Regions from separate parts of the Homo sapiens genome. Here region 1 is linked to region 2. The links come from fine-mapping of genetic effects on plasma protein levels. Region 2 holds a variant in brackets. A gene starts in the other region. All regions are shown on their reverse strands. Region 1 holds the start of LPO (lactoperoxidase). Region 2 overlaps FUT3 (fucosyltransferase 3 (Lewis blood group)).

What was found. PIP is the posterior inclusion probability: the model's chance that the variant is causal. The UK Biobank Pharma Proteomics Project read protein levels with antibody pairs (Olink). The fine-mapping took linkage between variants from a reference panel, not from the people measured, so its PIPs are less certain.
Region 1: LPO starts here. The variant in region 2 is fine-mapped to the plasma level of the LPO protein (UK Biobank, PIP above 0.99).

What each region holds. Positions count from the first base shown.
Region 1 is chr17:58,236,956-58,239,860 of GRCh38, reverse strand. LPO (lactoperoxidase) reads right to left here and starts at 1,277. Exons shown (of 13, transcript NM_006151.3): 1 at 1,122-1,277.
Region 2 is chr19:5,843,143-5,846,047 of GRCh38, reverse strand. It overlaps FUT3 (fucosyltransferase 3 (Lewis blood group)), which reads left to right. Exons shown (of 3, transcript NM_001382750.2): 3 at 1,197-2,905. The coding sequence starts at 1,209. The coding sequence ends at 2,294. Among named protein-coding and RNA genes, the nearest start is that of FUT6, 4.9 kb to the right of the region's middle. The variant T/G (reference allele first, on the strand shown) is at 1,267.

The DNA.
Region 1 (2,905 bases), not on the chromosome of region 2:
CTCACACTGTAATGTGCCTACTATCACCTAGGGATTTTGGTAAATGCAGATTCTGACTCAGAAGGTCATAGAAGGGGCCTGAAAGTCTGCATTTCCAGTAAGCTCCAGGTGATGATGATGTTGCTGGTCTGCAGACCACACTCTGAGTACCAAGGCCTTCCAGACTTTGGTTCTCAATGTCGCTGAGCAGTCACCAAGGAGATAGGGGGAAGGCCTGAGAAGGGATGAAGTCAGTGAGATTCTCTTCCATGATTGTAAAGAGCCCTGTGGAGGGTGGTGGAGTGAGCCAATAGGAAAGCCATAATTCTTGCCCCATCACCTGCAGGAACACTCTCTTGATCTTTTGAGTGACTCCAAGATCAGGATGAGAATGAAGAGATAGCTCTTATCAAGCCCTCTAGAGCGGAAATAATCTACTTCAACTGAAAGATTTGAGGCACACAATTGCATAAAAAACAAATATAATTTAACCACCCCATTCCCCCAAAATGAAGCCTGCCTACTACCGCTGCATACAGGTCACACACCTGCTTGAGAGCCAGGTGTCCACAGGGCACTTAAGACAGCTAGGACTAGACATTGAGGGCAAACTAGATGGTCGGATCTGCTGCAGATGGCAGGCATGAGATGCTGGAAATGAGATGAAGACCTGACAGCTCCGGCTTAGGGAACCCCTTAAAACACTGCAAAATCTCCACTATAGTGGAGAGGCCAGATTTCATCACACTGTCTCAAGAACAGCACAGGGAGCACCATTCTGTCACTGTTTTCCCCCAAATTCCTGTGTGACTCTGGACACATTAAATTGCTTAAGTCTCAGTTCCTAAACAAGGTGGATAAGAGAGGTCTATGGTACCTTCCAGCCCTAAGAGTTTATGATTCTCTGACATAGTTTTCAGACACAGAAAAGCCTTTTTCCCCCACAGTGGTGGGGGGAGGCTTAATTACATTCTCTCTTATACCAAACAAGAGGAGTGTGCCATGGGGTGGCTAAAGCTGGCACCAGAAAGTGCCTGATAGAGACAAGTCTAAATCCAGTGTTAAGCTTTCTGAGAAGACGTTAGGAAATTTCATCATCAACTTTGCAGAAACCAGGAAAGATGAAAGTTGACGAGTCTTACCTGCCCAGTGCCTTGTCTTTTCACGGCAGCCAGGGAGTTGCTCTGCTTGGAGGAGCTGGTCTTTTATACCTTCCAGCAAGAATTCACTTCTGGGAAAGGCCCAGAAGGAAAGATTTTGATGTGGCTTGGAGGAGACGCTGAGGCTTAGCAGGAAAGACTGTGTGACTCCGGGCAGATACACCAGGAAACTGCAGAATGGCAGGGATTGGTTGATGCAATAGCACTGACTGTGGGTGAAGCAACTCCTCTTTCCATTTTCTAGCTTAAATGCATGATCCTGATCTAGTTCCGGAAGGCAAAAACTGCATGCCCTGAGCACATTTGTCCCTTTTAAGCTCCTAATGGGATCCGAATAGCTCTTAGAATTATGAACAATTATTAGGTTGGTGCAAAAGTATTGCAAAAACCGCAATTACTTTTGCACCTAGCTAAATGGTTCTCCTCCCCATTCATATATTCACTGCCCTTTGATCCCTCCCTTACATTCCACCCAATTTACTGTGGAATCCAGTGGATTCATCTTTTGGATTTAAAGTGATCAATAAACATTAATTTTTTTGGTCAAAATTTCAAAATACTTTTGGCCACCAAAGGGTGAGAAGAGCCCTAAGCTTTCATAGTGGGTTGCAGTCCCTGCCTCTGCCATTGTATGGCTCTAGGCAAGTCACTTCACCTTCTGGTGTCTCAAATTTTCTAGTATTGAAATCAATGGTTGGTTTTGGTGATTATTATGATTCTATGACTTCATGCCTTCTATAGGGTGACCCATTTAAAAAACTCCAGAATCTGGGAGGCCAAGGTGGGTGGATCACTTGAGGTCAGGAGTTGGAGACCAGCCCAGCCAACATGGTGAAACCCTGTCTCTACTAAAAACACAAAAATTAACCAGGCATGGAGGTGCATACCTGTAATCCCAGCTACCTGGGAGGCTGAGGTGGGAGAATCACTTGAACCTGGGAGGCAGGGGTTGCAGTGAGCCAAGATCATGCCATTGCACTCCAGCCTGGGTGACAGGACGAGACTCTGTCTCAACAAAACGAAACAAAACAAAACCACCACTATCGTATAAATTATTGACCTAAAGCTCAAGCATAATGTTACATACCTTTCCTACCTCAATGACTTTGGAAATTCAAGTTCATTAGATTCATACAAGAAGGAAAAAGGAAGATTCCGAGAAAACAAAATTTCATGAAAGTATATTTTACAGACAGACAATTTAAAACATAATAAGCCTCTTTATGAAATTATACTTTGAGTTGAAAATACTCTGGGAGCAACTGTCAGAAATTTATCAACCCCAAAACAGACTTCTTGGTTCGCCTTCAAAAAAGTGATATTTCCTTTCTCTAGATGGTGGAATATATCTAAAAACTACTTCTCTCGTGATGAATCCAGGCAAATAAGCTGGGCATCTCGGAAGAAGGCAGCTGTCCAGGAGAGGTGAATGAGACATCAGGCTCTTCTTGTTTTCTTTGAAACACACTTCAGCTCCTTAGCCAAGCATTGTTTTTCTGTGTCTGACCATTCCCTGAACTTTGGCACATGTTTCTCAAGGTTCTTGCCTCTGAGTTTTATGCTTAATATGTTCAGGAAGCTGTGTTGTTAGGCAGATCTTGACCTAGTTGGTTCTGAATAATCTGAAGATGGAACTTCCTTTTAGAAGACCCTATGGGATAACATTGCTTCCTATGTACAAAATATAGTGACTTATTGGTCAGGGTAACAGCAAAATACAGGTCTGATTATTCCCGGGTTTTATCATGTTATGACATGATATGATA
Region 2 (2,905 bases):
CAAGGTCTTGCTCCATCACCCAGGCTGGGGTTAAGTGGCATGATCACAGCTTGCTGCAGCCTCAAACTTCCAGACTAAAGCAATTCCCCCAAGTAGCTGGGACTACAGGCGCATGCCACCTTGCCCGGCAAATTTTTGTATTTTTAGTAGAGTTGGGATTTTGCCATGTTGCCCAGGCTGGTCTTTTTTTAAAAAAATTATTTATTTATTTATTTTTGAGATGGAATCTTGCTCTGTCACCCAGGCTGGAGTGCAGTGGCATGATCTCAGCTTACTGCAACCTCTGCCTCCCAGGTTCAAGTGATTCTCATGCCTCAGCCTCCCGAGCAGCTGGGATTACAGGCATGAGCCACCACACTCGGCTTATTTTTGTATTTTTGGTAGAAACAGGGTTTCACCATGTTGGCCAGGCTGGTCTCAAACTCCTGACCTCAAGTGATCCACCTGCCTCAGCCTCCCAAAGTGCTGGGATTACAGGCATGAGCCACCAAACCCGGCTATTATTTATTTATTTATTTTTGAGACACAATCTCCCTCTGTCACCCAGGCTGGAATGCAGTGGTGTCATCTTGGCTCACTGCAACCTCCGCCTCCTGGGTTCAAGTGATTCTCGTGCCTCAGCCTCCCAAGTAGCTGGGACTACAGGTGTGCACCACCACACCCAGCTAATTTTTGTATTTTTAGTAGAAATGGGGTTTCATCATGTTGGCCAGGCTGGTCTTAAATTCCTGACCTCAGGTGATCTGCTCACCTCGGCCTCCCAAAGTGCTGGGACTACAGGTGTGAGCCACTCTGCTCGGCCGGTCAGCTCATATATTACCTGCAAAACCCAGTCCCATTGTACCTTTCTCTGGCTGAGTCATGGATTCAAGCCTTGCCTCAGTGACATGGGAAGCAATGATGACCGGCTATGCCTTCTCCCCTGCCTCCAGGGCACTTGTATTTCAGTAGACTGGGGAAGACTTCGGGGATTCCAGGAAAGGTCTTGTCTAATAGGTAGAAGGAAGTGGACTCTGGGACAAGGTCCCTTTGTTCAAACACCAGCTGTGCTGATTTTTGCTGTGAGTCACTTGGTCTCAGTTTTCTCATCTGTGAAACAGGAATAATAGCAGCTCCTCTCAGGACTCATGGCCCGGAGCTTTGGTAAGCAGGAGATTGTCATCAATGACCCTCACTCCTCTCTCCTCTCTTCCCAGATACTCTGACCCATGGATCCCCTGGGTGCAGCCAAGCCACAATGGCCATGGCGCCGCTGTCTGGCCGCAC[T/G]GCTATTTCAGCTGCTGGTGGCTGTGTGTTTCTTCTCCTACCTGCGTGTGTCCCGAGACGATGCCACTGGATCCCCTAGGGCTCCCAGTGGGTCCTCCCGACAGGACACCACTCCCACCCGCCCCACCCTCCTGATCCTGCTACGGACATGGCCTTTCCACATCCCTGTGGCTCTGTCCCGCTGTTCAGAGATGGTGCCCGGCACAGCCGACTGCCACATCACTGCCGACCGCAAGGTGTACCCACAGGCAGACATGGTCATCGTGCACCACTGGGATATCATGTCCAACCCTAAGTCACGCCTCCCACCTTCCCCGAGGCCGCAGGGGCAGCGCTGGATCTGGTTCAACTTGGAGCCACCCCCTAACTGCCAGCACCTGGAAGCCCTGGACAGATACTTCAATCTCACCATGTCCTACCGCAGCGACTCCGACATCTTCACGCCCTACGGCTGGCTGGAGCCGTGGTCCGGCCAGCCTGCCCACCCACCGCTCAACCTCTCGGCCAAGACCGAGCTGGTGGCCTGGGCGGTGTCCAACTGGAAGCCGGACTCAGCCAGGGTGCGCTACTACCAGAGCCTGCAGGCTCATCTCAAGGTGGACGTGTACGGACGCTCCCACAAGCCCCTGCCCAAGGGGACCATGATGGAGACGCTGTCCCGGTACAAGTTCTACCTGGCCTTCGAGAACTCCTTGCACCCCGACTACATCACCGAGAAGCTGTGGAGGAACGCCCTGGAGGCCTGGGCCGTGCCCGTGGTGCTGGGCCCCAGCAGAAGCAACTACGAGAGGTTCCTGCCACCCGACGCCTTCATCCACGTGGACGACTTCCAGAGCCCCAAGGACCTGGCCCGGTACCTGCAGGAGCTGGACAAGGACCACGCCCGCTACCTGAGCTACTTTCGCTGGCGGGAGACGCTGCGGCCTCGCTCCTTCAGCTGGGCACTGGATTTCTGCAAGGCCTGCTGGAAACTGCAGCAGGAATCCAGGTACCAGACGGTGCGCAGCATAGCGGCTTGGTTCACCTGAGAGGCCGGCATGGTGCCTGGGCTGCCGGGAACCTCATCTGCCTGGGGCCTCACCTGCTGGAGTCCTTTGTGGCCAACCCTCTCTCTTACCTGGGACCTCACACGCTGGGCTTCACGGCTGCCAGGAGCCTCTCCCCTCCAGAAGACTTGCCTGCTAGGGACCTCGCCTGCTGGGGACCTCGCCTGTTGGGGACCTCACCTGCTGGGGACCTCACCTGCTGGGGACCTTGGCTGCTGGAGGCTGCACCTACTGAGGATGTCGGCGGTCGGGGACTTTACCTGCTGGGACCTGCTCCCAGAGACCTTGCCACACTGAATCTCACCTGCTGGGGACCTCACCCTGGAGGGCCCTGGGCCCTGGGGAACTGGCTTACTTGGGGCCCCACCCGGGAGTGATGGTTCTGGCTGATTTGTTTGTGATGTTGTTAGCCGCCTGTGAGGGGTGCAGAGAGATCATCACGGCACGGTTTCCAGATGTAATACTGCAAGGAAAAATGATGACGTGTCTCCTCACTCTAGAGGGGTTGGTCCCATGGGTTAAGAGCTCACCCCAGGTTCTCACCTCAGGGGTTAAGAGCTCAGAGTTCAGACAGGTCCAAGTTCAAGCCCAGG